Linked DNA regions of Homo sapiens: regions 2 and 3 are each linked to region 1. The links come from fine-mapping of genetic effects on gene expression. A gene starts in region 1. Each other region holds a variant in brackets. All regions are shown on one strand. Distances are between the middles of the regions.

Region 1 (11,196 bases):
ATCATTCTAATTTTGCCTTTACCAAGGACATGGAAATTCAATAAACGTTTGGTAATGAAAACTCATAAACTATAATTTCTTTAGCCATCTGTAAAATAAAATTGAATCAATACCCTAGGAAGGCCAGGCATGGTGGCTCACACCTGTAATCCCAGCACTTTGAGGATCGCTTGAGGCCCCCAAAAGTTTGAGACTAGCCTGGGCAACATAGGAAGACACCGTCTCTACAGAAAACTTAAAAATTAGCTACACGTGGTAGTACACGCCTGTAGTCCCAGCTACTTGGGAGGCTAAGATAGGTGGATCGCTTGAACCCAGGATGTGGAGGCTGCGGTGAACCATGATCACACCACTGCACTCAGCCCGGGTGACAAAGATCTTATCTCAAAAAATAAAAAATAAATAATTTTTTTAATGAGCTATGATCGCACCACTGCACATTAGCCTAAGCAACAGAGCAAGACTCTGTCTCTAAGAAAATAAAAATAGCCTGGGCGCGGTGGCTCATGCCTGTAATCTCAACATTTTGGGAGGCAGAGATGGGAGGATTAATTGAGGTCAGAAGTTTGGAGACCAGCCTGGCCAACATGGTGAAACCCCATCCCTACTAAAAATACAAAAATTAGCCAGGCGTAAGAGTGTGTACCTGTAGTCCCAGCTACTTGGGAGGCTGAGGCAAGAGAATCACTTGAACTTGGGAGGCAGAGGTTACAGTGATCCAAGATCACACCACTGCACTCCAGCCTGGGTGACAGAGTGAGACTCCATCTCAAAAAATAATAATAATAAATAGATTTTTTTTAAATAGGAGGATTAAATAACATATCCAATGAGTAGCATTTATACTATTGTACCTGTAAGAAAAATCCAAAATAGTTAAAAAAATGTTTAATATCAGTGTATTAAAATGGCAAAAATGTGCTTTCTACTTATGGTCTAAATCTGCTTACAAATGTCCCCCCTTTTCTGCATAGGAGGGCAATGTTTCTTGTAGAGCCAAGGCAGAAGCTGGCAACAGTATTGGGAAGATTTTCTTCATAGTGACAGTGTTACAGCATAAGATCATCTCATATCATCTTACTATAGGATGACAGTAATATTATCTTACTATCTTACTATGTGTTACTTTATTAGTTTTTCCCTTATATGTTTGTTTTGGGATATATGACTTGGCTCATATATATATATATATGATATATATATATATGATATATATTTATATATGATATATATATATGATATATATTTATATTAAAAGGTGCTTTGTTCTTTGCAAAACAGTCTCCTATGTTATTTCCTCATTTTATTAAAATGTAACCTAAAACTGTTTTTACAGAATCTTATTATACTAATGTTTGCCTTGCAATATAAATAGAAAATGGAATGATAAGTAACCTCTCCACGCAGAAGTTCCTGCCACTGATCTCTGTCTTTAAAGGTTCCAAATGGGACACTCGGTGGCCAGTAGTTCAAGTCTGTACAAAAGTAATGTTTCAAAGCCAAATATATATCAAGTAAGGTAATCTGTCACATGACATTTCCTATTTCAGCTGTTTTCCTAATTGTACGGTTCACTAATTTATTTTTAAAGTATCCCTGTTTGGGGCAGATAACTCCTTATTTCTATATATTCTATGTTGAGAGTTTTCTCTACACTTTTAAAAACTACACAGTTGAAGACTACTGAACAAGGGGACACTCTTTTGATAATGTGATAAACACATTCATTCTTAATCCTCACATAAAGTCAAATAATTCATTTGCCTGTACAAAAGATATAACAGGCAGTCTGTACATATTATTTGTGGCAAAGTAATCAGTATTAATCAGTGTATCTGCTACACAATGTGTTATATTACTCGGTAATACCTCTGACCTAAAAAATGAGTTAAGCTGATTATGGGACATAGGTTCATTTGCCTAATTCATTCAACAAATATTAATTCAGTGCCTGCAGTAGGCACTGAATTGAAAGCAAATACATGAGAGCAAACAGAATAACGTAGAGCAAAACAATATCCAGCTCTCTTAGGGACTTCTGTCCACATTACCCCAACCCAATGGTAGGTTTTAAATGCTGACATTTTGCAGTTAATCAGGGGCTTCTAAATGCTAATAATTCTTCTTTAGAAGTGATTACAGAAGAAGGGGTGAAAAAAAATAGCAATTCCTGCAGAGAAGTCCCAGTATTACATATTTTAAAATTCAACTTAATGAGATCAACTCTAAAGCTATGCTTGAGAAACACACTGATATTTTTAGAATTCTCTCAATATAGAACTCTATGCTTAAAATTATCCCATCTGGGTGGGTAACACATTTGATGATGCTTTTATAATCAAAAGAAACAGGAAATTAAATAATATCGATATCTTTTAGGGTACCAGCATGCAGTTTACAGCATCGGTGTGTTAATGAGCTGCAGACCACATAAATTTCAATAGGATAATGATGGTTCCCAAATATATCCTTAGGTGAGTCATTAGATAGTATCTTTAATAGCTTTTTAAGGGTCATCTTCAAGTTATAAATAATATAAATACGTATACAATAAAACATGATCCCAGTTTTCACTTGCAAAAAGGGATAGTGTTAGCTGTAATATTAGCTCCACTTAAATGAGATGTCTAAAATCAATGACAAGTAACAGTAAAATACCTACATGGCTAATTAAAATGGAACAATTATAAACAGGACGGACAAAACTAAAACACTAAAAGCATAACTAAAACTAGCACACAACCTCAAAGGAAATGGTATTGTCATATGTTCATGAAAAACAGAAAACTGTTGTGTAGAATACAGAAACCCTGTTGCTATTTTAATTATTTGTTTTTTTAAAAAGTTTTCCAAATTTCAACAAGAGTGATGAGTCAGATCTTCAGTACAAAGCAAAGCGGTATTTAATTGAAAAGATTACTGAGCTTGACAACTTCAGTCTTTTCAGCCACACACGGCAAAAGTGTCATTTTCAAATATGAAAAATAACCAACATAAATGATAAAAATATTTTTAAGTTGTTATATGCACTAATGTGAGTTGAGATTTGAGATCTCATTTGTAAATCCATTTTAAATCTCGGTCCTTATAGATTTAATCCAATTTTTCAAAAAAAAATCTTAACACGCCTGCTACAGAGATCCTAATTGTTAAAGATCTTTGACCCACAGCATATATATTCCTTCAACATGGCAGGCCCTCTTGGCCTTGGCTCATTTCCACTTGAGATTGGTTTTGTTCAGTATTATATACATACATACACGCAGCATAATACAGGACATATTATAATGCAGTCAAAATTTATGTTTTATTCACATACTATCTCCTACTGGTACTTGTTAGCTCAAAACATCTTCCATAGGGAGATATACATAAGAGATATTAGCTCAGGCCAATTAGCAAGGCTGAAGACGTAAAAGAAACCCACTCTAATGTCAAATTAATGCTGAAAAATTATTATGGTTTAAGTTTCCTGGAAACTTTCACGTTGTTAGAATGTGATCACCATGTGAACTAGATACATGTTCCTTCCAGACAATGAAAGCTGGAAGTATCATCTCAGCCTTCCATTGATGGACATTATCAATATCCCTTACCAGGAGGCAAGCCATCCACTCCTTTGAAGTAAAATCTCCAAGTAGAACTCTCTTTTAGTCTTTAACAAGAGTCCTTAATGTCACTCTGTAACCCCAATAATTCCTGGTCTCCAATCTACCTTTTCCTGGACAATTTTAATCTGTAGCAATATTTATTTATTTATTTATGAGATGGGGTCTTACACTATTGCCCAGACTGGAGTGCAATGGTGTGATCATGACTCACTGCAGCCTCAACCTTCCCGGCTCCAGTGATCCTCACACTACAGCCTCCCAAGTATCTGAAACTACAGGTGTGTGCCACCATGCCTGGCTCATTTTTTTTTTGTTCGTTTTTCTGTAGAGACAGAGTTTTGCCATGTTGTCCCGGCTGGTCTCTAACTCCTGGGCTCAAGAACATTTGACTGCCTTGGTCTCCCCCAAAGCGCTGGGATTACAGGTGAGCCACCGCGCCCGGCCTGATTTGTAGTAATTTAAATCCAAGTAAACCTCAACAGTAGCAGTATCTTGGGGCATTTAAATTTTACTTTAACCAACTGATAAAACCAAACTTGAATATGACAATTTCATAGGGCATAAGCAAATTCCATGGACTCCTTACATTTATGGTCCTAGATTAATAATATTTTGGTGTTTGAACAGAGTATTTGTAATCTATGTAAGTAAAGGACATGAGGGGAAACACACTTTACTTTCTAAAATTATTCCTCTCCATCACCCTCTTTCTCTAAGCCTTCTTTAATTATGGATTGAAATTTAGTTAGGTCTATCTGGTTCATTCAGATACCTGTAAGAGAGGTCATTTATAGCATAACATCACACCAGGTGATTTAAGCTCCTCTCCTACACAGTTTCAAATACAGAAAAGCAATGACCATTCTTAGAAAAGATCTTCACTAGTCATCCACAGTCAGAGGGACATTTAGAAGCAATTGCAAAAACTGTGGAGACAACGTACAGTTTTTCTCAGCACAATTTACATAGATGTCTGGCTAGCTCTTCCTTGTAAAAGTCCAGTGTCTTCATTTGATGTGCTAAGTTAAACTGTAAACTCCTGAATAATTTGAACTCTTATTTAGGAAAAAAATGTTTTTTCACCTATATACTATAAAAAATGGTGACGTTTATCACAAGGGTCATGCCGTGGGCTCCCATAAAAGACATTGTAGAGCACGATAAAGAACGTTTTCTCCCAGAAGAACATTTATTTCTAAAACCCAGTTCCCCATGTTAAACATCACCTTTGGTTTATCCTTCAGACTCACCGTACCCATGATGTTTAAAATTGCAACCCACACCTGCACTCCCAATTCCCTTTCTCTGTTCTCCTTTTTCATTTTTTCATAGCATTTGTACTTTTCTAACCTAATATACAAATATGTTTTTTATCATTCTTTGCTAGAATGTAAGCTCCAGAGGGAAGGGATCTTTGTCTCTTTTGTTCATTGATGCATCCCAAGCATCAAGGACAGGACGTGATAGAAAATCAATTTTTGTTGAATAAATGAATGAATCTAGGTTGAGTTCAGTAAAAAAATATCTCTGGAGTAAGTTAGTTTCCAATTTTATTTCTACAATTAACAAATACCTTCTGAGCTTCAATTATGGTGGAGATAGATTGATCATACCCTTACAAATATATAATATCAGATGGTGATTAAGTGCTACAAAGCCGAACCAGCAGTACAAGAGTTTGGAGAGCCAGACATTTTAGGTGAGGTAGTCACCTCTCTGAAATGATGGCAATTGTTTCAAGACTTAAATAAAGTTCTGTGCCATGCAGATTTGCGAAGAGTGGGAAAGTGAGCATTGAGCATACTGGAAATACCAAACGCAGACGCCCTGGGATGAGGGTCCGCTTGGCGAGCCCAGCAAGAGCAATAAGGCCTGAGTGGTGGAAGTGGGGTATGCAAGAACGTATCATTCTTGTTGCTTTTACCTGCTGCTTAATAACACGCATGTACTGTCTAGCAGGAAATAAAGAGATTACGTTTCACCTAGAATACTCATTCTCTGAGCCTAAGTGGCTCTTCTATTCCAGCCCCCAAATATCTGTATCAGCACATCATATAAGATTACAAAGCACAGAGTAATGACATTGTTAGAAACTCTTCACAGTAGCCCCAGGAGTCACGAAACTGACTTAACTAAGACCCACTGTCTAGTAAGGTGTAAAACCCAGCAGGAACGCAATACTAGGAAGGTGCAAAGCCAGGAGGCTCAATAAACGTTAAACAGTGTCTGGGGGAAAGAGCAACGATCCAGAGCACTGTTTGTGAACTCAACCACTTTTATTCAGCTCTGACAAGGTAAGTCGCCAAGCGCGGTACAAAGTAGCTCCATGAAATGCGTTTTGTTATAGTCCTGGTCTCGAACTGTTGCAACATTTTATGTAATTTTTGCAAAGAACAAAAGCAAAAAGTTCATTCTAAATTAGCCTTCCAACTCAGTTCTTTCTCCGCCAAGACGGAGCACTTGGAAAGTTTTCAATGTCTGAAAACCTCTATTTCCAGGGCTGAGCAGAGCACTATGTTGCGGCTTAAGACGCTCGGCGATTTCTTCCCATCCCTCCGCAGTTCCAAAACGGCTTCGCCTAACAAAGTCAAACTTTTCGCGCTATTCCTGGACATCAGGACCAAATGTCGAAAGCATATACTGCCACTGAGTTAGTGAGCCGGGCCGGTGCCCGGGACCTGGGGTACTAGATTTATGGGACGGGAGCCTAGGGGTCGAGGCCACAGAAATGAAAACATCGGCAACATATGCAGTGCAGCGAGTGGGTTAGGAGGGAGAAACTTCAGGCAGGACGCTCCCTCGGGACCTGTGACGCCCCCCCAGCCACACCAGACGTGGGAGCTTAGGATGAGAGCGGCCTCCGAGCAGATGATCACCCTGGAACGACGCCAAACGCGACCCCTACCAGAGGACTCGCGCATGCGCAGCGCAGCCTGGGCCGGCGGCCTGGGCAGGATGTAGTCGCGAGCAGCGCACCGGGCCCACGCCAGCGGAATTGCGCATGCGCAGGGCCGCCTCTGCCTGCGGCCTGGGCTGGGTGTAGCCCCGGAACCTAGCTCTTAACTCCCGCCAGCAGTTTTACGCATGCGCGACGACGCCTAGGCCTGTGGCACGGTCGCGGCTCTAGTCCCCTGGGCCCCTCAGCTGTCTCTGGCGGGGAGGTCGGGCCGCAGGGGCGGGGAGGGGTGGCCTGCCCCAGTGGTACCTGACAGCATCCCACGTCACGGCCGCGATCCCCCTCGGCCTCCCACACCACTCCTCCACCCTCTTACCTCCTCGCAGGCCGGAGCCTTGTCCGCTCCGCCTCCTGGGTAGCGGTTACTGCACGGTCAGGGGCCCGGCGCCGCGATGAGTTGGCGCCTCCCCCTGAAACGGCCCGGCCTCGGCGGGATGCGCTCGGGTGCCCGGCCGAGACGGAAACGAAGGGAGCGCAGACAAGAGGAGGGGGCTGGCGACGGCGTCTCGCCCCTCCTCTCCTCCCTAGGCTGCCCACCGCCGCCCCTCCCCTTTCTCGCAGACGCCCCCTCCCCTCGGAGTTGACCCCCGGGAGTCTCCCATTGGGGCCGCCTCCGCTTTTCCAGGGAGTTCCTCCGTGGGTCACCCCCACCTTCTCCAGGGTTATGTTCTCGCAAATTTTGGGAATTTGTGGATACCCGACCTAGAAGGATAAGGCGTGTATGATGCTGAGAGCAACCTTTTCCACAGCCCCTCTCCTCCAGCCTGCCCCAGCTTTTCTTCTATTGCTGGCCCCTCTATCTGGGGGCTCCGATCACTTCACGTTTTCACCCCATTGCTGTGGGGCGGAAGTCTTGTAGCCCCCTGTAGTACAAATGCTGAAATAATGAGGATGTGTGCTGGGGGGTTCAGGGGGATGACCTCAGTTACCTTGGGGCCAAGGGCTTCGAAAACAGCCACCTTCTCCCCTTATGATTATATTTTGCAGTAATTTATTATATTACACTGCACTTCTGTTGGCCTTTGTAGATTTAAGTAAAATGCACCACAACTTTGCAGTGTGCAATAATTTCTTCCACTGCACTACACTTAAATTGACCTGAGTGGGTTTTGGTTAAATGCTCAACAATTAAATGTTATTAGCTATTCCTGTGAAGTAAGCTACTTGCTTTTATACTGGCTGTTTCATGAGGACACTGGTTCCTCTACAGTGTAGAGCCAAAAGTAGTAAAGCCAAAGAGAAAAACTAACATTCCAAACCACAGTGACCGTGTCAGTCTGTTTCGTCTGGCTTTTGTCATTTCTTCGGAAAAACATCATTCTAAAATGTATAACTGCCTTTCTGCTACATAGGGCAGACATTTATCTCTATTCTCTGAGCATAGCCCACTGAGCCTCAGAAGGAGGCACGCAAAATGGTACACAGGTATTTCTTGTAGAGCTCTAAATGGAAGAAAAAGTAAGTATACATTAACAGGAAGTTGCAGCGATAGTGCAGAGAGGCATCGTGTGCCTGCCCCAAGTTTCTCCACTGGTTACATCTTATCAATGAAAGAAATTTATGAGTTAAACAGGTTTGCTCTCAGAAAAAGCTCACTTCAGTGATGATAGCTGGCATTTTTTTTTTAAGCACCTATTGTGTGCCAAGAGGTTTATCTTATTTGGAGCTCACAATAATCCTGTAAGGCAAGGATTATCCTTACTTTACAGATAAGGCAACTCAGGCCCCAAGAGATTAAGTTTCTTTCATCAGCAACCATGGCAAGATCTGTTTGCCTTGCGCACTTGGTCTTTTACGCATTATGGACAGCTGAAGTTCATGCAGGCCTTACGGTGTGCTTCAGCTGAAGCCTGACAATTAGCTAACAATAAAAACATGTCTTAGTGTTTTGAAAACTGTGATATTATCTCAGAAGTTAAAACTTTAAAATATACCTATAAAAGAATGTGTTTCACTAAAGATTTTAATTTTATATGGGTCCAACAGTTTTTCCCAGGGCGGTCAAAATTAAAAGTAAGAAGTAAAAATGTCTCCATCACATATAAGTTTCCTTCAACACTTTTGGATAATTTGGTCTACTAAACTTCACTGTATTGCTGAATTCAGTAGACTAAAAATTTAGACTCTGAGAGAGTATAGGTTAGTATTTCAGGAGTTAAAGTTCCCATCACCACATCTCCCAAGTTTACCTACATCTGTACCTGTGCACTCTATTCCTTCCCATTACTGGGAATGAGCTGTGCATGCTCTTATTTAAGTTCAACTCTTCCACCTTTGTATTAGATCCTGTCTTCCTTACAGTCTCAAGGTTTTCACTCAGGTAGTTGTCACCTCTCAATCCTACATTATTAATTTTTGTATCATTAATTTTTGGATCATTCCCATAAGCATATTAACATTGCGCAACATTTGCCTATCTTTTAAAAAGTTCCTTGATTATATGTCCCCTATCAGCTACCAATGTGTTCTCTGGTCTCTTCCAAAATGTCTTAAAAGAGTCACTTATACTAACTGTATCCTCATCCCCTCCTCCTATTCATCCTCTTTTTTTTTTTTTTTTTTGAGATAGAATCTTGCTCTGTTGCCCAGGTTGGAGTGCAGTGGCGCAATCTCAGCTCACTGCAACCTCCACCTCCCGGGTTCAGGTGATTCTCATGCCTAAGCCTCCCAAGTAGTTGGAACGGCAGGTGTGTGCCACCATGCCCAGCTAATTTTTGAATTTTTAATAGAGATGGGGTTTCGCCATGTTGGCCAGAATGGTCTAGAGCTCCTGACCTCAGGTGATCTATCCACCTCAGCCTCCTAAAGTGCCGAGATTATAGATGTGAGCTATCATGCTTGGCCCTCCTATTCATTCTTGAATCTATTTCAGCCAGGCTTTTGCCCCTACCCCTCCATTGAAACTCCTCTTGGCAAAGTCACCAATGACCTCAGAATTGCTAAATCAGTGGTTACTTTTCCATTATCTCACCTGAACTATCAGCAGCATTAGAAGCATTTGCTTACAGCTGCCATCTTGAAGCATTCATCTTCTTCTGTTGGCCTTCAGGTGGCCCCTGTCTCTTGGTTCGTCCATCTCACTGGCAGCTCCATTGGCTCATCCACCACTTCTCCAGCCATTGGCATACCCAGAGTTTGGTTCTTGGACTTCTCTATCTTCTCGTTCCCTTAGTAATTTTATTTCAAGACATGGTTTTAGTCCTGCCACTTCTTATGTCCTAACAAGTTCATGACACTACTCTTGTGAAACTAGGAGCCCTTGTCCTTTTCCAGCCCACAATGGGGATCTAGCTGCAATAAAAGTCTTCCCTTTCTTCCCTTTTTAAACCCCCTAATTACTTCTGCTTTTGGGGTATCTTTAAGCCTCCTTTAGTTATCCAAAAGCAGAGGAATTCATCTTGCTTTTTTCTTTTCAGGTATCCAGGCACCAAGGCCCTAATCACAAGAAAAGGTGGATGGGGCCGTCTTTTGACTTTTTCTTGGAAATTCAGAAAGTCTAATTACGCTTCAGGGAAGAGGAAAATGTTCTTTTTTTCCTCTTTGCGTCTCCAGAACAAAAATTTAGCACCAGTAAATTTCTACATCAGTCTGCTTGTTACAGATTGAATGCATGAATGAATGACTGCAAGCAGCCTGCACTTTGGTGCCCTAAGTGCCATTGATTAGGTGAATGACCTTGGGTAGCACCTTAGTTTTCTAGAACTTAAATTCCTTCAGACTCCATTAAATTGGTGCACTGCCCAGCTCTGTGTTTTGTAGAGGTATCAGTCACACTGCACCTTTACTGATGCATGCTATTACCATGCTGTATAGAATTGTGCATGTCAGCATGGTATTATAATTGGTGTTAGAATATAAAAGTGATAAAGATGATAATAGGCACATATACACTTACTGTGGCAATAGTGAAAGAATGACAAAATACCAAGAGGTGATCAGAGAAGGCTTTCCAAAACAGATTACTTTAGCATTAAGTTTTCAGTGTGGGCTGGGTGCCATGGCTCATGCCTGTAATTCCAGCACTTTGGGAGGCGGAGATGGGCGGATCACTTGAGGTCAGGAGTTCTTGATCAGCGTGGCCAACATGGTGAAACCCCGTCTCTGCTAAAAATACAAAAATTAGCCAGGCATGGTGGTGGGTGCCTGTAATCCCAGCCACTTGGGAGGCTGAGTCAGTGTGAGTTAGCTAAGAGAACAAAGGTTAGGGATGGAAGTGTTAGGGAAGGGAAGTAGTCTAAGTAGAATAAGAAATATGATGTGTTTGAGAATTATAAATTGCTCAGTAAGGCTGAAACAAAGGCTATATGGAGGGAATAGGGCAATGGTAGGAAATTAAAGTAACCATTCATTCATGAATGGACACTAAGGATGATTCTTTATCTCAACAATTGTGAATAGTGCTGCAGTGAACATGGGAGCACAGATATCTCTTCAACATACTGATTCATTTTTGTTGGACATATACTCAGTAGTGAGATTGCTAAAAATAGTCCTATTTTTAATTTTTTGAGGACCTCTGTACTGGTTTTCGTAATGCCTGTACTAATTTACATTCCCATCAACAAAGGTTCCTTTTTCTCCACATCATTGCCAACACTTGTTATTTTTCATCTTTTTTATAATAGCCAT
Region 2 (11,196 bases), 290 kb before region 1:
TTGTACTGCTTTGTATGTCAGTGTCAGTAAAGGAAGACTCAGAAAAAAAAATCTTTTTGGGTTACCAGTAAAATCATCCTCTTAAATTTTTTGGCAAACGTGGCATTTTATTAGAGCTTAAAGACTAAAGGAAAAGAAATTAAGGACTTTAGACCGTTACTGAAACCTGTTAAAGGATTTGACAATTCTGAATTTCTGAATGAGGTGATTTTTGCCTAAATGATATACAAAATATTAACACTGGAGCTGTGCTTCACAATGAAAGTCTTTTCCAAAGTAGACAGCTGAAAGTTGAAAATTGGAAATTATAACACTAAGGACATCATTTTTGAAAAATTTCCACTTAATTGTGATTATCCCTTTTAATTAGTACTTACAACACATATTTTTAATAGCTTTAAGGAGATCTACAATACAACCTCATTTTATAAGTGTTATCAACAATTGAATGAACAAGATTATTTTAAATTATTGTGCATTCTTTAAGCTCTTTTATTAGAGGAAAAAACTTTTTGCAGTATTTCTATAATTGTACTTGGGGAAAAATCAGGTAAGAATGAACGTAGACTTTTTATTCTTAAACAGAAAAGTTTGAATCTTGAGTTGTAGCGATGAGGAAATTACCCTTGTTTTTATGGTAGAGATATATTCTGATTTTTCACTTAATGTTTTATCTTTCAGTACTGATAAGTTACCAGCAATAATTTTATGATGTTGAACTAACATAAGTACGACAAAAGAGAAATAAAATTTTCACAGCTTATATATAATACCACTTCTGAGTTAAATATCCTGGACGTTTATTTGGGAAAGTGATACTAAGTATGGTGGTGGATATTTTGTACTTTGAAATTTTGAAATATTTGCATAAACCGTTTTTGGCATAGTTGAATTTCATACTTTAAAAAACAAGTTTGGTGGATTTTTGTGTTTATTTGAATGATTAACTTTAAGGCTCAAATTATTATTTTTTTTTAGTGAAAGCAAGTTTATTAAGAAAGTAAAGGAGTAAAAGAATGGTACTGCATAGGCAGAGCAGTCAAGATGCAAATTATTTTTAAAAGTTGTTTGTTTTCAGAATGAGTTAAGGATAAAGCTTAAGTCTTAACTATTTTCTCTGCTTATATATGATTATAATGTTTTAAATTATTTTATATAAAAATTTTAAAAGATGCATTGTTAATTAAATCACTTGAATCTCTGCAGTATCCAAAAGCAGACCCATTTTTATGCTGGGGAAAATGATTTTTGAGAGCTAGTCTATTTAGCTTTGCATTATCAGTTTTCAGTTTTTCATTTTATATAACTTTATCCAATTCATTTTTTCCTCCCTTTAATACTGGGACATAAAATTTCCTGTCTATCAGTTTTACCTAGGGCCGTGCTAGGCATCTTAAGCAGAGAAGGCAAATTCAGTGTCTCCTGGGCTGAAGCAGATGAATTGTTGAAGCTGGACTTTTTGCATATGAAACAAGTAAGAATATTCTTGGTTTTCCTGCCAGGCGCAAGCCACCGCCTGTAATCCCAGCACTTTGGGATACTGAGGCTGGTGGATCACCTGAGGTCAGGAGTTCGAGATAAGCCTGGCCAACATAGCAAAATTCTGTCTCTACTAAAACAAAAATTAGCCAGGCGTGGTGGCATGCGCCTGTGATTCCAGCTTTTTGGGAGGCTGAAACAGGAGAATCGCTTGAATCTGGGAGATGGAGGCTGCAGTGAGCTGAGATTGCGCCATTGCATTCCAGCCTGGGTGACACAGCAAGACTCTGTCTCAAAAAACAAAAGAATATTCTTGGTTTTCATTTTTAAAACATGAGTCCAGTGTTGCTGGATCCTCCAATTTTCCAAGGCAAGCTAAAAATCAGTACTATTTTAATTTATACAACAATTTTAGCCCAAAACACTGAAGGCATGGGCCACTATTTTATAATCTCCTTTAAAGTGGAACGCAGGACTGGCAAATTATAGCCTATATCTTCAAATACTGCCTGCCTGCTGTTTTTCTGTAGCCCATGGGGTAAGAATGATTTTTATATTTTTTAATGGTTGGGAAAAATATCAAAGGAATGATATTTCTCCTTTTTGCCCAGTACCCTCACTGAATTGTTGGGGAGGGGCTGCTGCTATTCAGGAAGCAGCAGCACTAGCAGAATTCAGGTTATACAGTCATTCTTCAAAAGATTTAAATTTTGTCTCTATCACTTACTTTGATACCTTGGGTAAGTTACTTCAGTTCTCTGTGTCTCAGTTTTTTCATCAGCAAAATAGGGAAAATAATAATCTGTAACAATAATAGCACAATGCCTGGAACAGAGTTAAAAATTAGTAGATTTCAGCTACTGTTATTTTTATTTATTTTTTTGTTGAGAAACAGTCTTGCCCTGTCACCCAGGCAGGAATGCAATGGTGTGATCTTGGCTCACTGCAGCCTCTGCCTCCCGGGTTCAAGTGATTCTCCTGCCTCAGCTTCCCAAGTAGCTGGGATTACAGGCACCTGCCACTATGCCTGGCTAATTTTTTGTATTTTTAATAGAGACGGGGTTTCACCATGTTGGCCCGGTTGGTCTCGAACTCCTGACCTCTTGATCAACTACTATTATTAAAGTCCCAGTTTTCTCTCCTCATCATTCTTGTTTTGGAATATTACTTCTTATATTACTGTTACTGCTTATCCCTGCCTCACATGTCAGTAACAATATTGTTGGTACTTTTTTCACAGCAAGGCATTCTGGTAAAGATTGATTCCTGCAACATAAAAACCCTTAGGATTCAGTAGCTGTACCGATTTCATTTAAAAATGTTATTTATTCATTACATAATAGGTGTTAATAGAATTTGAGTTTTACCAAAGTAATACTAAATTTTAATATGCAAATATATAGTCCTGCCCTATGTCAGAGGAACATACTTTAAAAAAATTGTAGCATCATTGTATACAGTAAAATGCATAGATCATGAGTGTACAGTTAGATAATTTTAAGTCTGTATACCTGGGCTCTAACTCCCAATCAAGCTGAACATTGTTATCAACTCAGAAAGTTATCTTGTGTCCTTTTACAATTTGTTCTCCTTAGAGGTAACCACTATTCTAATTTTTCTCCCCATAGATTAATTCAAAGCAATCATATTCACTTATTAGCTTCTTATGGTCTTTTATTACCATGGTGACCACTAGACCCTCTTCTGCCTTTGTGCAATTTAGAAAAAGATCCCCTCTCTGGTGGTTTGGAGAATAGAGCATCAGTTGGTTTCTAGACCTACTGATTCCCTTGGCCTGGCATCCTTGTACTGGAAACAACCTGCCCAACCATACATGGCGATCTTAACTCCATGTTTCTCACTTTTTGCCCCAGTAGGGCGTGGTGCGGCGGGCAGCAGAGTCTTGCTCTGTCACCCAGGCTCGAGTGCAGTGGCATGATCTCGGCTCACTGCAACTTCCGCCTCCCAGGTTCAAGTGATTCTCCTGCCTCAGTCTCCCGAGTAGCTGGGATTACAGGTGCCCACCACCACTCCCAGCTAATTTTTGTATTTTTAGTAAAGACGGGGTTTCACCATGTTGACCAGGCTGGTCTGGAACTCCTGACCTCAAGTGGTCCACCCACCTCGGCCTCTCAAAGTGCTGGGATTACAGGCTGAGCCATAGCACCTGGCCCTCCATGTTTCTCTTTTAACTCCCTATTTCTCTAAATCAGTGGTTGTTAAACATTTTGCTCTGAGAACTCCTTTATAGTCTTAAAAATTGTTCAGGATCCCAAAGAGCTTTTGCTTTATGTAGGTTATATATATTTCCAAATAACCAAAAAGATTTAAGAAGACTAACAGTAACATTGTTTTACATTCGGCAGTGCCCTTTATTGAATAGCTTAATAGAAGATAGCCGGATTTTCCTATCAAATTCTTCATTCAGTCTGTTGTGATATGGTGCTTAGCTTCTGGAAAATTGCACTGTACAATTTTTATTGTATATAAACATAGCGAGAGAATGAAAGTGAAAATGACAGTTTTATTATTTAAACTAACACAGTCTTAGTTTTATTATGAAAAAAGTTTGACCTTGTGGACCCCCTGAACGGGTGTGTTCCTGGACCACATTTGCAGAACATCTATTCTAAATATTTGCTTATACTGCTGTTTCATGGTTTGTTTTCATTTGTTTTATTTTTTGCAGTTTTAGATAATACCTATTGATAATAGCTACATGGAAGGTGAATATTTAGCTTTTTCTGAATATTTACACACTGCACACATGATCTCTTCTCCTGTTCTAGCAATTTCTGGTTAAATTGATATTTAGTGTTTTTTATTATAATTAACATAAACATTAGTTACATTTGAGTATTGTAGTATACTTTTATTTTACTTCCATTCTTGTATAACAACTTTTTATTTTCCCTGAATTTGATCATGCTTCTTGGGGCAGGAGAGAGGGTTCCTTAATTTTCTACATACTTACTGCTCATTCATTCCTCAGACTCTGACAGCAGTATAATTGTCTTTCTGTGTCTTCAAACTCACCAGGTAACTTACCAAGTTTCTTTCTTTCTTTCTTTCTTTTTTTTTTGATGATTTCTTGCCCATCATTCATTAGTTTTCTATTCCAGACTGGTTGCACTCATACAAATGTCCTGAGAGTCATAATCATCTTGGAAGAATTGCCTTTGTCTTTATCACATGCTAGATCTACAGTTTCATAAATCTGAAGAAAAAGATAAATTTTTAAAAAATCTTACGTGTCTCAGAATCGTTATTCCATCCTCATATTTGATAATTTATCTGGGTGTAAAATTCTAGGTTAGCATTCATTTTTCTCTCAGCATTTTGATGGCATTGCTCCATTATCTTCTAATGTGATGCCATTCTGATTCCTTGTTTGTACATGACTTTTTTTCCCCCTTTGGTTGTCTACAGGCTGGTGATTTTCTCCTTATATCTTTTTTTTCTTTTTTCTTTTATGCTTTCAGCTTTCAACATTTTTATTGACATGACTTGTCTGCTGTCATTCATTTTCATTCTTTGTGGCTTAAGGTTTATTTGTTTTATCCCTTTACTGTCGCTTTATTGAGCTTTCAGGAGGAAGTAAACAAACATTTCACTGGAAATCAATATTAGAACTTCAACTTAGCTATCTTGATAGCTTTTTAAAGATTTGTTAGAATATTTCCTTTTACATTAAAAATTGACTTAATGATAATTAATAATGGATAATAATGGAAACCATCTGAATTACCATTAGCATTAATTTAAGATCAGACAGGATGGTCTAGAAAGATTGATGAGGCATCCTCTGATCGTCCTCTTCAAAGTTCCAAGATTGTCTCCTTCATGAGGAATTTTAGAGGCAACTCATTACCAACTTTGTAGTTTTGCTTTGTGGCATTATTACTCCAACTAACTTAAAAAAGTTTCATTTTTGTAATTAATAT[G/T]TTGCCTTTTTCATTTATGTTGAAATGCTTATGTGCTGGTGTGCCTTAGTTATTTTCCTTTATTGTTTTAAGTTCACATGTATGTGATTTTAATACTTTTTGCTACCATCCTTTGTAATTTGTTGAACAACAGAGAAAAGCCCTATTAATTTTGACAACATATTAAAAGTAATATTACTGCCTTTGTAATAGTTCACACATGTAGGGCTTATTAGTGTGGGTCAATTTAAGTAAACCTTTTACAACAGTAGAAATTCATGCTGTGGGCCGGGCATGGTGGCTCACGTCTATAATTCCAGCACTTTGGGAGGCTGAGGCAGGAGAATTGCTTAAGAACAGCCTGGGCAACATAGTGAGACCTCCACCTCCACAAAAAAATTTAAAAATTAGCCATGTGTGGTGGTGCACATCTGTAGTCCCAGCTACTTGGGAGGCTGAGGTAGGAGGATCACTTGAGCCCAGGAGGTTGAGGCTGCAGTGAGCCGTGATTGCACTATTACACTCTAGCTGGGGTGACAGAGCAAGACCCTGTCTCAAAAAAAAATTAATTAATTAATTAAAAAGTATATATATTTAATAAAAAAAATCAGGCTATGTGGTTTCTGGTTAGGAGTATTATCCAAGTGTGACATGGTGTCTGTCACTTCATTTATTACCAGAGTTAATTTGCCTAAGCTGTTTGAGTCAGTTTCCTTAAGCAGCACATAGAGTCAAGATAATATTCAGACTTTATTAGCTCTGTGATATTACATAAATAATTTTACTTCTCTGGGCCTCATATTTATCTGTAAATGATGTATTGGATTAAACTACCTTCATGGTACTTCCATAGGGGATCTATTCCTGAGAACTGTATTGATCATATATTCAGAAGCACCTACTGGATAGCCAGGTACTATACCTGGAATTTAAAAATTGCTAAACACCCCAGCTTTCAAGAAACATTGTGTAGCTAGGGAAGACCAACCAGTTATGAAAACCAAATTAGTCACAACCTATTTAAATGCCTATATTTATTCTTAGAAGAAAATCACACCGCTGGATCCAAGAGCCAGGAGAGTGGTGGAGTAAGGGAGCAACATTCAATATTACCACTGAGTTTTTACTGCACATGCCTTCAGTGCTAGGCAGTAGGGCTCATAGGATCAAAGCACTTCTCACATGTAGAGAGACAAGTATTCCTGATCTTTAGAACTATTTTTTCTAGTAGTCATCTTGTTTAACATTTAGAATTCCAAACTTGGACAGAAATTTTCTCTTAACTATCCACATTTAAATTATGTTATACTTTCAGATGAATATACTTGGAATTTTCTTACCAAAAGTTCTGCATTTTAAATGAAATTACCCATATTTGAATATGAATGTATAATTATCTTGTTGAAAGACATTAAAAGCCAGCATTTATATAAAAGTGAGTCTAGAACAGGTTTGTTCTTTTTTTTCTTTAATCTTGACACTGAATTTTATAATGAATTATATAAAATTAGAGCATTCGAATTGTGCTTAAAATTTTTAGGGAAACTGTTGATACTGGTAACAATGTGGAGTTTCATTCAGCCAGTGGTAGAGAAAATCTGTCTTCACCAATTTATCCCGGTAAAGGATATTATTAACAATAAATAACATTTGTATATAATGCTGTTGTTTATGAACATTTACCTGTTTGTGCTAATCTAGGCTTTTTGCTATCCCAGTGCCTTTTACTCACCAATATGAATTTGAAATTCTGCTAAAATTTCACTTTATAAAACGGATACAAGGCCGGGTGCAGTGGCTCATGCCTGTAATCCCAGCACTTTGGGAGGCTGAGGCGGGCGGATCACTTGAGGTCAGGAGTTCGAGACCAGCCTGGCCAACATGGTGAGATCCCGTCTCTACTGAAAATACAACAGTTAGCTGGGCCTGGTGGCATGTGCCTGTAATCCCAGCTACTCGGAAGGCTGAGGCAGGAAAATTGCTTGAACCTGGGAGGCAGAGGTTGCAGTGAGCTGAGATGGCACCACTGTACTCCAGCCTGGGTGACAGTGAGACTCCGTCTCAAAAAAAAAAAAAATGGTTACAGTTCTGTTCAGCATAGATTGAATAAACACAGTAGAGAAATGATGGTCATTTTTTAAACTATGTAGAAAAAAGAATAAGAGATTTTAAACTTATTATTCATATAAATATTCTACTTTGCACTAATCTGCTTGTCTCTGATACAAAAGTGATTAAGTTATGATCCAGTTCTAAATGCATTGCGTTGATAATCTGCCTGTTGTTTTTTTTTTCAAGTTCCAACCTATTTTTATTTAACCTAAAACTGTGCTAGTTTTATGTGATGCTAATAATTTGGTTCAAGTTTCATAGATTTCTGACAGTAGTTACATTATTATGCAGTGGCTTTAAATTTTAATTTTTTTTCATTCTATATTACTGCTTTTATATTGCAGGATTTTTTAACAAAAAAGTATGTTAATGAGGAATCTGTTTTATAGACCTTGTAGTTTAAGTTCTTTTTTTTTTTTTTCGAGACAGAGTCTTTCTCTGTCGCCCAGGCTGGAGTGCAGTGGCATGCAGTCTCTGCTCACTGCAAGCTCTGTCTCCTGGGTTCACGCCATTCTCCTGCCTCAGCCTCCCGAGTAGCTGGGACTACAGGCGCCTGCCACCACCCCTGGCTAATTTTTTGTATTTTTAGTAGAGATGGGTTTTCACCGTGTTAGCCAGGATGGTCTCAATCTCCTGACCTCATGATCCACCCGCTTCAGCCTCCCAAAGTGTTGGGATTACAGGCGTGAGCCACTGCACCCAGCCTAAGTTCTCCTTTTTAAAGCCTTCCCCTGTTCGAATTCCAGTACAGAATAATTCCATAACTTCATTAATCATAACATGTTGGTATAATTCCCAATTTTGACTGTAAATACTAATTTAACTTAACTAAATGAAATCTAATATTGACAGAAGGTCAGAGGCCTTTGTGAAATAGAGTACTCACAAATATAGAGAGCAGCTTTCTGTGTAATGCCAGACACTAGGAAAACTGCTTCCTTTTTATGTGTCAAACATTTATCACGTGGACTTCCTCACTACAGTCAAGACAGCAGCAATCTCATTTCAAAAGGCAAATTAAAAAGCAAAATTCAGATACTGATTTAAGTGAATAAGAAAAAATGCAAACAAATGTTTGATGTCCTCATGGATTGTTAACTTCTCAGCCAGAGATTTTGTGTCTTACATATACCAGATATATTTGATAATCAGTGCAGTTAATAATTAGCGGATCACCACATCATGTCCTTTTGATGCTTTCATACTGAGGAAAGAAACCTAATGTAGAAACCAAATGAATATGTCCCAGTGTACAAAACCCAGAACTCAAAACCCTTTATATGGAGAAGTAGTTTAGATTGATTATTTAATATAAATAGGATCCCAGAAGGAAGTATACCCAGTCATAGCTGGAAGTGAAGATCAGAATTCAAAACCTATATTTGGTCTCCAAGTAGAGAGAAAAAAAAGATAAGAGAGAAGTTGAAAATACTAGAACATTGATGGGAAATTTAGTTTTTGGTTTTGTTTTGTTTGAGATGGAGTCTCGCTCTGTCACCAGGCTGGAGTGCAGTGGCATCATCTCAGCTCACTGCAACCTCCGCCTCCTGGGTTCAAGCGATTCTCGTGCCTCAGCCTCCCGAGTAGCTGGGATTACAGGCACAAGCCACCACACCCAGCTAATTTGTGTATTTTTATTAGAGACGGGTTTCACCATGTTGGCCAGGATGGTCTCGATCTCCTGACCTTGTGATCCACCTGCCTCAGTCTCCCAAAGTGCTGGGATTACAGGCATGAGCCACTGCGCTTGGCCGGGAAATCCTAGTTTTTAAAAGTGCGAATCACTAAATTTTTTTAATGTCCCAGCTGTTTTGCTGTTTTGGAAAGCATTATACCAGCCAAACAACACATCTGTGGGCAGCTGTCCTATGCACCCCCATATTTACCTATGTTACCCAGCATGTTTCTGAGTAACTAAATCTATTTCTGAAGGTTCAGTATATTTTGAGTTGAATAAATGGTATTGGTTCTTTTTTTATGTATATTTTTTGATAATATAATTTTTAACACTAAGAGTTGTTTTCCTCATTAGTATCCTGATTCCTAAAGCACTGTTGTTGAATTTGATACAGAAATGTAAAATATTGTATCTGAGCACTTTGAAAAATGTCTCTTAAAAGCTTCAGTCATCCTGTAAAAAAATGTTCAAATAGAGGTGCCTAAGAATATAAAGTGATTTGTTAGTTTGAGAACAGAATTGAAATTATACGAAAAAATATACATTTTATTTAAGTTTATAATTGAAGCACATTTACTAAAGCCTCTTAGGGAACTGATTGAGGTGACCTAATTCTTAACTAATTGAAGTACCAGAAAAGAATTTGTCCTTCATTTTGTTTAAGATATAACTTCTTAAGTAATTTTATTTTATTATCCAATGCTGAGATTTATTTGAACTAGAAATTAGTACTGTGCCAGAGTGAGAGTGCTCCTGAAAGCCAGGTCTTTCTATATCTACTGTTGCAAGGTGGTTATAGGCCAGCGTGTGCTGCAGTGTCTTCTTTTATAAACTGGGCTAAAAAACTTGAGGTTTAGGAAGATTAATTAGATGATAATTGTACAGCACCTGTGGGAGTTCTGTTACCTTTTAAGCGCGATGCAAGGTGCACCAGTTTTATTGCAGTAGAAGGGAGGAAACGTCTCGGTGACTTGTTTTAAATTAGGCCAGGTAAAGTTATATACCCCAGTGAAGAAGCTCTTACTTGTTAGTGGTTTTTTTCTTTTTAAAATTATGAAATATTTCAGGCACACAAAATACAGAGAACCTGAAGTATATTTTATATGTTTTGAAAGTCTTAAATATCACATACTTACATAATACTTAAATATGTGGTGTTATATGTTGTGCAACGTGCCTTTTTTGGGGGGGTCAGCAATTATGTTTCTTAGGCTTATCTAAAAATCAGCAGTGCTAGTACTTTTTTTTTTTAATTTTTATTTTTTAAAAGAGATAGGATCTTGCTATGTTGCCCAGGCTGGTCTGGAACTCCTGGGCTTGAGCAGTCCTCCTGCCTCTGCCTCCCAAAGTGCTGAGAGTATAGGCACGAGCCACTGGGCCTGGTCACTAGTTGAATCTTTTTAGCAGTATTATATGAATCTATAATAATTTATTTCGAATTTTTTTTTTGTTGCTGACAATGTAGTGTATATTCTTGGACATATTTCCTTACATATTCAAAAGTTTATCCAGGATTTATACCTAGGAATGGAATTGCTAGGTCATAAGATAAATGTATGTCAGAGGTGTCCAATCTTTTGGCTTTCCTGGGCCACATTGGAAGAAGAATTGTCTTGAGCCACACATAAAATACACTAACAATAGTTGATGAGCTGGGAAAAAAAATCACAAAAAAAGTCATAATGGTTTAAGAAAGTTTGTGAATTTCTGTTGGGCCACATTCAAATCTGTCCTGGGCCACACACGGCCATGGGCCACGGGTTGGACAAGCTTGATGTATGTTTATTAGATACTGCCAAATTGTTCTCCAAAGCAGTTGGACCTAAATTTCTGTCAATTGAGTGGAAGTTCCCAAGTTCCCTTTGTTACACACTTTTTCTAGCACTTGGTGTTAGACATTCTTTTATTGCCTGGTAGACAGGAACTCAGTTGATTTCTTCCCCACCCTCCATATCAAAATATAATTTACATGGAATAAAACTCCTGCATTTTATGTGTACAATT
Region 3 (11,196 bases), 170 kb before region 1:
TTCTACAATGTTTGAACTAATTTACACTCCCAACCAAGAGTGTATAAGTGTTCTCTTTTCTTTTGCAACCTCACCAGTATCTGTTATTTTTTGACTTTATAGTAACAGCTATTCTGACTGGTGTGAGATGATATCTCATTGTGGTTTTGATTTGCATTTCTCTAATGATCAGTGATATGGAGCTTTTTTTTCATATGCTTATTGGCTGCATGTATGTCTTCTTTTGAAAAGTGTCTGTTCATGTGCCTTGCCCACTTTTTAGTGGGGTTGGTTTTTTTTCTCTTGCAAATTTGTCTAAATTCCTTATAAATGCTGGATATTAAACCTTTGTCAGATGCATAGTTTGCAAAATTTTTCCCCATTCTGTAGGTTGTTCATTTACTCTGTTGATTGTTTCTTTTGCTGTGCAGAAGCTCTTGAGTTTAATTCAATCCCACTTGTCAATTTTTGATTTTGTTGTGATTGCTTTTGGTGTCTTTATCATGAAGACTTTGCCTGTTCCTATGTCTAGGATCTATTTTTTTTTTTTGAGACAGAGTCTCACTCTGTCACCCAGGCTGGAGTGCAGTGGCACAATCTCGGCTCACTGCAACCTCTGCCTCCCGGGTTTAAGTGATTATCTTGCCTCAGCCTCCTGAGTAACTGGGACTACAGGTGTGCACCACCATGCCCGGCTAATTTTTGTATTTTTACTAGAGATGGGGTTTTACTATGTTGGCCAGGCTGGTCTTGAACTCCCTACCTCAGGTGATCCATGCACCTCAGCCTCCCAAAGTGCTGGGATTACAGGAATGAGCCACCACACCTGGCCTGGCCATCTTCAATCCATCTTGAGTTGATTTTTGTATATGGTGTAAGGAATGGGTCCAGCTTCAATCTTCTGCATATGGCTAGCCACTTATCCTAGCACCAGTTAATGAAATGGGAGTCTTTTCCCCATTGCTTGCTTTTGTCAGCTTTGTCAAAAAGATCAGCTGGTCCTAGGTGTGCAACCTTATTTCTGGGTGCTCTATTCTGTTCCATTGGTTTACATTATTCTGAAAAAAATGTGCCTGTTTTTGTACCAGTAACATGCTGTTTTGGTTACTGTAGCCCTGTAGTATAGTCTGAAGTTGGATAATGTGATGCCTCCAGCTTTGTTCTTTTTGCTTAGGATTGCCTTGGCTATTCAGGCTCTTTTTTGGTTCCAGTTGAATTTTAAAATAGTTTTTTTTTTTTTATTTCTGTGAAGAATGTCATTGGTAGTTTGATAGGAATAGCCTTGAATCTGTAATTTTTTTGGGGCAGTATGGCCATTTTAATGATATTTATTCTTCCTATCCATGAGCATGGGATGTTTTTCCATGTGTTTGTGTCATCTCTGATTGCTTTGAGCAGTGTTTTGAAATTCTTGTTGTAGAGAGCTTTCACCTCCCTGGTTAGTTGTATTCCTATGTATTCTTTTTGTGGCAATTTTTAATGGGATTGCCTTTCTGATTTGGCTCTCAGCTTGGCTCTTGTTGGTGTGTAGAACTACTAGTGATTTTTATACATTGATTTTGTATCCTGAAACTTTGCTGAAGTTGTTGATCAGCTGAAGGAGCTTTTTGGCTCTAAGACTACAGGGTTTTCTAGATATAGCATCATGTCATCTGCCACAGAGATAGTTTGACTCCCTCTCTTCCTATTTGGATGCCCTTCATTTCTTTCTCTCACCTGATTCCTCTGATTAGGACTTCCAATACTTTGTTGAATAGGAGTGGTGAAAAAGGGCATCCTTGTCTTGTGCCAGTTTTCAAAGGGAATGCTTCAAGCTTCTGCACATTCAGTATGATGTTGGCTGTGGGTTAGTTATAGGTGAAAAAAAGAGGAAAAACTCAAATAAACAATCTAACATTGTATCTTAAAGAAGTACAAAAATAAGAGCAAATCAAACCCAAAATTAGTAGAAGAAAAGAAAGATCGAGCAGAAATAAATGAAATTGCAATGAAAAAATTGCAAAAGATCAATGAAACAAAGTGTTTTTTTAAAAAGTTAAACAAAATTGACAAGCCTTTAGCTAGATTAACTAAGGAAAAAAGAGAGAAGATACAAATAAGATCAGAAATGAAAAAGGAGACATTACAGCTGATACTGCAGAAACTAAAAGTATCATTAGTGGCTTCTATAAGCAACTATATGCCAATAAACTGGAAAATATAGAAGAAATGGGCAAATTCCTAGACATGTACAACTTACCAAGATTGAACCAGGAAGAAATCCAAAACCTGAACAGACCAATAACAAGTAATGAGATTGAAGCCATAATAAAGTCTCCTAGTAAAGAAAAGCCTGGGACCTGATGGCTTCACTGCTGAATTGTACCAAACATTTAAAGAAGAACTAATACCAATCCTACTTACAGTATTCTGGAAAATAGACTAGGAAGAAATACTTCTAAACTCATTCTACAAGGCCTGTATTACCCTGATACCAAAACCAGATAAAGACCCATTAAAAAAAGAAAACTATAGGCCAGTATTTCTGAGGAATATTGATACAGAAATCTTCAACAAAACACTAGCAAACTGAATTCAATAATACATTAGATAGATCATTCATTATGTCGCAGTGGGATTTATCCCTGCAATGCAAGGATGGTTCAACATAAACAAATCAATGTGGTATGTCATATCAACAGAATGAAGGACAAAAATCATATGATCATTTAAATTGATGCTGAAAAAGCATTTGATAAAATTCAGCATCCTTCATGCCCAAAACCCTAAAAAACCTGAGGATAGAAGGAACATACCTTAACGTAATAAAAGCCATATATAACAGACCCACAGCTAGTATAATACTTAATGGGGAAAAATTGAAAGCCTTTCCTCTAAGATCTAGAACATGATGAGGATGTCCATTGTCATCACTGTTATTCAGCATAGTACTGGAAGTCCTAGATAGAGTAGTCAGACAAAAGATATAAAGGGAATCCAGATTGGAAAGAAAGAAGTCAAGTTATCCTTGTTTGCAGCTGATACAATCTTATATTTGGAAGAACCTAAAGACTCCACAAGAAAACTATTAGAACTAATAAACATGTTCAGTAAAGTTGAAGGATAGAAAATCAACATACAAAAATCAGTAATGTTTCTGTATGCCAACAGTGAATAATGTGAAAAAGAAATTTAAAAAGTAGTCCTGTTTACAATAGCCACACATAAAATAAAATGCCTAGGAATTAACCACAGAAGTGAAAGATCTCTATGATGAAAACCATAGAATACTGATGAAAGAAATTGAAGAGCACACCAAAAAAATGGAAAAAAATTTTATGTTGTTCATGGATTGGAAGAATTAATATTGTTAAAATGTCCATACTACCCAAAGCAATCTATAGATTCAATGCAATTCCTATCAAAATACCAATGACATTCTTCACAGAAATAGAAAAAACAGTCCTCAAATTTATATGGAACTACAAAAGACCCAGAATAGCGAAAACTATCCTAAGCAGAAAGACGACGTTGCTTGACTTCAAATTATACTACAGAGCTATAGTAACCAAAACAGCATGGTACTGGCATAAAAGCAGATACATAGACCAGTGGAACAGAACAGAGAGCCCAGAAACAAATCCACATGCCTACAGTGAACTCATTTTTGACAGTGGCCAAGAACATATGCTGGGGAAAAGACAGTCTCTTCAATAAATGGTGCTGGGAAAACTGGATATCCATATGCAGAAGAATGAAACTAGACCCCTATCTGTCACCATATACAAAAATCAAATCAAAATGATTAAGGACTTAAATCTAAGACCTTAAACTATGAAACTGCTATAAGAAAACATTGGGGAAAATCTCCAGGACATCAGTCTGGGCAAAAATTTCTTGAGCAATACCTCACAAACACAGTCAACCAAAGCAAAAATGGATAAACGAGATCATATCAAGTTAAAAAGCTTCTACACAGCAAAGGATACAATGAATGAAGTGAAGAGACAACCCACAGAATGGAAAAAATATTTGCAAACTACCCCTCTGACAAGCAATTAATAACCAGAATATATAAGGAACCCAAACAACTCTATGGGAAAAAATCTAATAATCTGACCAAAAAATTGGCAAAAGAGTTGAATACACATTTCTCAAAAGAAGACATACAAATGACAAACAGGCATATGAAAAGGTGCTCAACATCAGTGATCATCAGAGAAATGCAAATCAAAACTACAATGAGGTATTTATCTCACTGCAGTTAAAATGGCTGATATTCAAAAGACAGGCAATAACAAATGCTGGCTAGGATGTGGAGAAAAGAGAACCCCCGTACACTGTTGGTGGGAATGTAAATTAGTACAACTACTATGGAGAACAGTTTGGAGGTTTCTCAAAAAAATTAAAAATTGAGCTACCATATTATCCAACAATCCCACTGCCAGGTATATACCCAACGAAAGGAAGTCAGTATATCAAAGAGGTATCTGCACTCCTATGTTTGTTGCAGCACTGTTTACAATAGCTAAGATTTGAAAGCAACCTAAGTGTCCATCAACAGATGAATGGATAAAGAAAATATGGTACATATACACAATGGAGTACTATTCAGCCATAAAAAAGAACAAGGTCTAGTCATTTGCGACAACATAGATGGACCTGGAGATCATTATGTTAAATGAAATAAGCCAGGTACAGAAAGACAAACATCACATACTCTCATTTATTTGTGAGATCTAAAAATCAAATCTGAACTCATGGACCTAGAGAGTAGAAGGATGGTTACCAGAGGCTGGGAAGGGTGGTGGAGGTTTGGGAGAGGTGAGGATGGTTAATGGGTCCACAAACATAGAAAAAATGAATAAGACTTTATAGCACAACAGGGTGACTTTAGTCAATAATACCTTAATTGTACATTTTAAAATAACTTAAAGAGTGTAATTGGATTGTTTGTAACTCAAAGGATAAATGCTTGAGGAGATGGATACCCCATTCTGCATAATGTGCTTATTTCACAGTGCATGCCTGTATCAAAACATCTCACATACCCCGTAAATATATGTACTATGTACCCACAAAAATTAAAATTTAAAAAATTATGTAATTGTCATTCCAGATATCTTCATATATACATTTTGATTAAAAAGATGGGTAGTTGAGTGCATTCACGAATATAATTTTCTAAAACTAGGTTCATATTACAGTGCTACCTTTAAAATATAAAAATTAATTTCACTGAAATTTTATAGAAGAGAGAAATGGAAGGAATTGCTTAAATTTAGATAAGTATTTTGTCACTTTAAGTGATATTATTTCTAAAATTATTTCTCTAAGATTATGAAAAAATGTGAAAAAATTAAGAGGTTACAATCTTTATTTAAGTTTGTGTTTTTATTTAAAGCAATATACTTTAATCTGGTTTGAAGAAGGTTACTATCTTCACTCTTCCTGGTGCCTCCCCCTCTCCATTTTCAGATTAGTCCATTTTATTGTTATGACATTATCAAGTATTATAACATTTAAATTCTATTTTGTCACTATAATTATTGCATTTGGTTAGTCTCAGTTCTGTATTTAAATGGATTCTAAGGTTATCATAACTCCTATATCATAGTTTCTCCATTTCTCAGTTCTTTATTTTTATTCATCTCTTAGCTGGCTGTATTTTACAATCAACAAGTTTTTAAAAATATGCTTTTTGGTTCCATGTTCTTTATGTTTGACATGTTTAGGAATCATGTCTATAGCTTTTATACTTGAAGGACAGCTTTGTCATGTATTCTATTCTTGAGTCATATTTTGTTTCCCTCAGGACAATATTTTCTGGCATTGAACATTGCTGTTGAGAAAGCTGAGACTAGCGTAATTCCGCTCCTCATTTACTTCCTGAAGAATTTTTTTTTTAATTTGAGGTTTAATACCTTAAACAGGATAACATTTCTTGATTTTGTTATTCTGTATTAGCTTTTTTTTTTTGAACACCGTATCCCTTTTTAAACTGAAGGTTCTGCTGTTCATTTTAGAAAATCTTAACATACTCTATTTAAAAATATTCTATTCAGCTAGGTTGTTCTATACCATTGTATTTTGGGAACATTTTCTTATGTTGGATTGCTTTTATTCTCCCTATTTATTGTCTTCTCTCATATTATTCTGAATTTTTAAATCTTTTTCTTACATATTGGCTGTTTTTATCTCAAGCATTTTTTCCATTTTGAGCTAAACTATTTTTGTAATGGTGTTATTTGGTCCTCATCTTTTTTCTTAGCTTGTCTAGTTCCTTCCTTTTATATAATTTGTTCATTAATTTCCTTTTTATGATACATTTTTATTGAATTGGATTTATAATAGACGAATTATTCAATAATATGTATTTGGATCACTAAACAAATATATTGAGAATAGCAAATGGATTTTAACCCTCCTGCTAACCCAGATCAATTGCTAGTGGCTTCCCGGCCCATTGTGTTAAGAAGGACTCTAGATTAGCATCAGGTCTCTACAGGGAGGGGTACACTTAGTGATGTGATGGCTGCCAAGTAAAAGCTATGAGGTGGTGATGGTGATGCTACCCTCTTATCTCAGAGGCACGTTTACATTTCATATAGTACATTACAGGTGACTAAAGGTCATGGTTGTGCATCAGAGAGGGTAAGATGATGATCAGGAGAAGCTTCAATATTACCATTTATTTATTGATTCAACAGTTAGTTATTTAT[T/C]AGAATTTACAATGTCTCAAGCATGATATTACGTGCTAGGTTAAAGTGGTGGAAGATGTATATGTTCCCTGCTCAGCTAGAACTTACAGTCAAGTAAGGGAGATAGACATTAAATGAACAATCACAGAAATACTTAACTACATTTGCGATAAGGAATGTAAAGGGAAAGTGTAATCCCCCAATGGGTTCTTCCTGCTGGCTGCACAGACAAAATCAATCCACCAAGATTGTGGCATTGCAGTAGAGATAGTTTAATTGACCACTAGGCTGACCCATGTGGGAGAACTGGAGTTATCACTCAAATCAGCCTCAGCTGGTTAAGTTCTTAGTGCAAGCACTCATAGGGCATTTTCTTCTTTTAGATTATCTTTCAGATTGGGTTCTCTGTCTGATTTTTTTCCCCTTCTTATGTTGTGATTCTTTTTTGATTTTCTATGTTTACATAATCACTGTGCTTTTCCCCCTCGTATTGCTGGGACTGTATATGTGTAACCCTGATTTGATGTTCTGTTTTCTCTGATTTAATGTGAGTGAATATCCCTTCACTCTGCACTTAATCTGTGACTTGTTTATGTTCCCCAAAGAGCTATGGTATGGGAGCAGGCATTTTTATTATATCTGCTTTTAGTCAGGAGGTAAGGGAGAAAGTAGATAATTCAACTGTAATGATACAAGCCGTTGTTCTGAGTTTTTGTTAGAATGAACTTTATAACAGAACACTTCTAGTGGCAGTTTTATCTTTTTTCTATAGCAGGATTGTTTTGGGATTCAAATTGTCCCCAGTTCAACACAGTATGCAGAGTCTCTGTGTTGTCAGAAAAATAAGCTATAGTTGTTTACTTCCTCCATTTTACTCTTCTCTTATCAGCAGTTTCTCCCTCCAAGTCAGAGAGGCAAAAGATGAGGATACCGTTTGAGTTAGTCTCGCTCAGTCAGTCTCTCATTTGATATTGGTACCAGCACTTTAATACCTAATAAAATGAAAGCAAAAGAATGTACTTGAGAGAGATTCTTTCATCTGACTTCACCGTTTTTACCTAGAAATCCTTGATATCGTTCTTTACCACTATGGTATTTTAAAATAACTTATTTGTGAATATATTGCAGACATATTTTTTGCACCATACCATTGTATCTAGAAAACCTATAAAGATGCAACGTTATCTGTTTTCTCACAAAGTTTCTGCACATCCAGTGTTTGCTGAGATTATTACTGGTTTAGCAGTCAGATACTCAGAAAATAGAAAGTGAATCAAATTGAACTTCTCTTTTAAAAATAATGTATGACATGGAGCCATAAGCAAATTTGTAATAGCTGTGTTTTATCATGATTTGTATATTTTATGTAGCTACACTATTTGTTTTCTTAGGTATCTGTTATATGCATTTATTTTCTCACAGCCATCTAGTTGTATATATATTCTAATAACTTTAAAGATTTTATGGTGAACAATTATTTTATAGATGACTTTAAATTTATATACTAATTTTGTTATCTCTTAATGGTTTTGGTTATTGTAAGATTTTAGAGGGGTTGAAATTAAAAATATATAAGGTTTAGATATAAATAATTGGAATAAAATCATAATTTTATAAATAAAATAATTATTTTAAATTTTTAGATAATGAGAATTAATTGAATCATTGGAATTAGAATAAATTCTAATAAACTTAGTAATTTTATATAATAAATATACTTATAAAAGTGGAATTAAAAATTTGAATTCTAATTATTATAATAAAATATTATACAAATATAAATAAAATATTTATAAAATTAGAATTAAAGATTAGCATTTATCATACTTCAAAATCTTTCTCTGGAGTAATACATTCTATAGTTCTTAAAATTAGAAATAAATTTAAAAAGCAAAATTTATAGTGATTTTAGACATAAAGAATTAATTATAACAGAAATACTTAAATGTAAAATTCTCAGAGTAGACTTAACACTTGATTTATAATTCCATAACTTTACATATTTCTATTTTACATATTTTATACCTTTTAAAACAGATTTTTTTTTTTTTTACAAAAAAAAGAAAGAAAATCTTTACCATGCTGATAGTGATTGTTGAATGAATAAATTTATGGATATACTCTACCCTGCGATTTTCTCTCATACAAAGATCTGAATCTCTAACTTTCTTTAAAAATGTACATTTTTTTTTCAGGGGAAGTATTACAAATGGAAGATGATCTGGTGATTTCATTTCAGTTAATGCTATGTGTCCTTGACTATTTTATTAAACTCTCACCTCCCATGTTGCTCAAAGAACCATATAGTAAGTATTTAATTTATGCCCCTTTTACTTTCTCATTCAGCAGTTGCTTATTGAATGTCTAGTGGGTACCAAACATGGTTCTAAGGCTGACAGGATGATAAAAAATAAATCAGACATGGACTTTGCCCATAAGTAGTGTAAGTTATAGAAGGAAAGATAAGACATGGAAACAAATGATTAGAGTATATGGTAGAAAGTGGTTTGGGTCAAAATACAACAAATGGAGGTTTGGGAGACAAGAAAGTTTTTCCAGCTGTGGAAGACCAAAGAATACCATATAAAAGAAGTAGTATTTGAAATTAACATGGAAGAGTGGTTAGGATTGGGGAAAGGCATTCTCAGTAAAGTGTTGGGGGAGGGCATTCCCAGTGAAGAAAAGCAAGAAACAAGAAAAAGATATGAATGAAATTGCATGGGGAAGAGTGGCCTATTCTAAGGGAACAGCTTAACTAAGTTTTTATTACTATTGGATGTTGTAATAACTATGTATTTTTTTGTATATAAGCTATAACTCATACTATTTCAGTGGGTGATGAGTGATGAGATGGGAAGTATATTTAAATAAAAATAACTTGCTAATATAATTAGATAGCATTAAGGAAGTATGAGTAAGGTATATTCCTTTTAGCCTAGAATTGCTTCCTTTCATGGCTTCAAGAGTAGGATTTCAAAGTCACTTATTATATTATTATATACAGAAAAATGTAAACTTACTTAAGGTCAGACTAATTCCTTGCTTCTGAAATGATGAAAGTATTAATGCTAAAAATAATAGATAACATGGAAGTTTCAAAGTGTTGTTGAAATGGATGGAAGGATGAAGGCTCATTAAACTTTGTGAACAAGAATTTAGTGGAAAAATTAAGTATGGAGCAGAATTTTGAAGATGTGTTGAACATGGTTTGGCAGAGAAGGCAGAAACCTTCATTTAGCAGAAACCACATGCAAAGAAAGAAATAAAAAAAATTCTATATAGAAAACAAATATACTTCAAATTTTCTCCCAAATTTTATAAATTTCCTTTATATACCCTTTCCCCACTTTTTTCAATGTTATAACTTTAATAAGTTGATGTTGCAAGTTACTTTAGGTTGACAATCTTTGTTCTTTTGGATAATTCAAATGTACATGTGAATTCTCTAAGTGCTCTGTTAAAGAGCAATCAGCATGGGGTATTATTGAACTGACTGAATATGGTAACTCTTAGTTAATTTTTGTTGTAGAGAATTTCAAATGAATACAAAAATAGTAGTATAATAAGCCTCCATGTACTTATCATGTAACTTCAACAGATAATTTACAGTTAATCTGTAGCCCCATTGCCTGCTCAGTTCCCCCAGCTGTATTATTTTGAAGCACATCTTTGCATACCATTTCATCCTTATACATCTCAGTATATATCTCTAAAAAATACTTTTTAAAAAGCATAATTACAGTGCTCTTTGTTATCACACCTACAAATCAATAAATAGTGACTCCTTAATATTACTGAATATCTAGAAAGTGCTCAGATTTTCTTGTAAAAATAATTAAAAAATTTTTTTACAGTTTGAATGAGAATCTAAATAAGATTTATACTTTGTGTTTGGTTGACATGTTTTAAAAACTCTTTTAAAAGTTTCTCTTCCATCCTTTCTTTTTTTCCTTGTAATTTATTTTTTAAATAATCAGATTGTCTTGAGTTTTCCACAGTGTGGTTTTTGCTGATCATATTCTGTGGTATAGTTTAACATGTTCTTCTGTCCTCTCAATTTCTTGTAAGTTGTTGATTGGATCTAGAGGCAATACATACTTTTTATACTTAATCATCTGTAATTTTTTTTTTTTTTTTTTGAGGCAGAGTCTCACTCACTCTGTCGCCCAGGCCTGGAGTTCAGTGGCGCGATCTCAGCTCACTGCAAACTCTGCCTCCCGGGTTCAAGCAATTCTCCTGCTTCAGCCTCCCGAGTAGCTGGGACTATGGGCATGCACCACCACACCTGGCTAATTTTTGTATTTTTAGTAGAGACGGGGTTTCACCGTGTTGGCCAGGCTGGTCTTGAACTCCTGACCTCATGATCCACCTGCCTTGGCCTCCCAAAGTGCTAGGATTACAGGCGTGAGCCACCACACCCAGCCATCTGTAATATTTTTAATAGCTGAACCTGTATTTAGTTTGGATTGGGAATGCTGAAAATAATCCAGGAGATTTTTTTTTTAAATCACAGTTTATTATCATATTATTATATTTA

The links. PIP is the estimated chance that this variant, and not a neighbour inherited with it, causes the effect.
Region 2: its variant is the best candidate, but not a certain one, in a credible set for the expression of RCBTB2 in nasal epithelium (TOPMed, PIP 0.65).
Region 3: its variant is the best candidate, but not a certain one, in a credible set for the expression of RCBTB2 in tibial artery (GTEx, PIP 0.51).

What each region holds. Positions count from the first base shown.
Region 1 is chr13:48,526,145-48,537,340 of GRCh38, forward strand. It overlaps RCBTB2 (RCC1 and BTB domain containing protein 2), which reads right to left and starts at 6,936. Exons shown (of 15, transcript NM_001268.4): 1 at 6,884-6,936. It overlaps LOC124903174 (a long non-coding RNA gene), which reads left to right and starts at 1,560. Exons shown (of 2, transcript XR_007063795.1): 1 at 1,560-5,905. RefSeq lists enhancers at 5,252-5,421, 6,312-6,551 and silencers at 6,592-6,991, 7,102-7,151.
Region 2 is chr13:48,237,859-48,249,054 of GRCh38, forward strand. The region is part of intron 1 of ITM2B (integral membrane protein 2B); the gene reads left to right. Among named protein-coding and RNA genes, the nearest start is that of ITM2B, 10 kb to the left of the region's middle. RefSeq lists an enhancer at 3,443-3,943. The variant G/T (reference allele first, on the strand shown) is at 5,424.
Region 3 is chr13:48,351,163-48,362,358 of GRCh38, forward strand. It overlaps RB1 (RB transcriptional corepressor 1), which reads left to right. Exons shown (of 27, transcript NM_000321.3): 7 at 8,855-8,965. Among named protein-coding and RNA genes, the nearest start is that of RB1, 53 kb to the left of the region's middle. The variant T/C (reference allele first, on the strand shown) is at 6,681.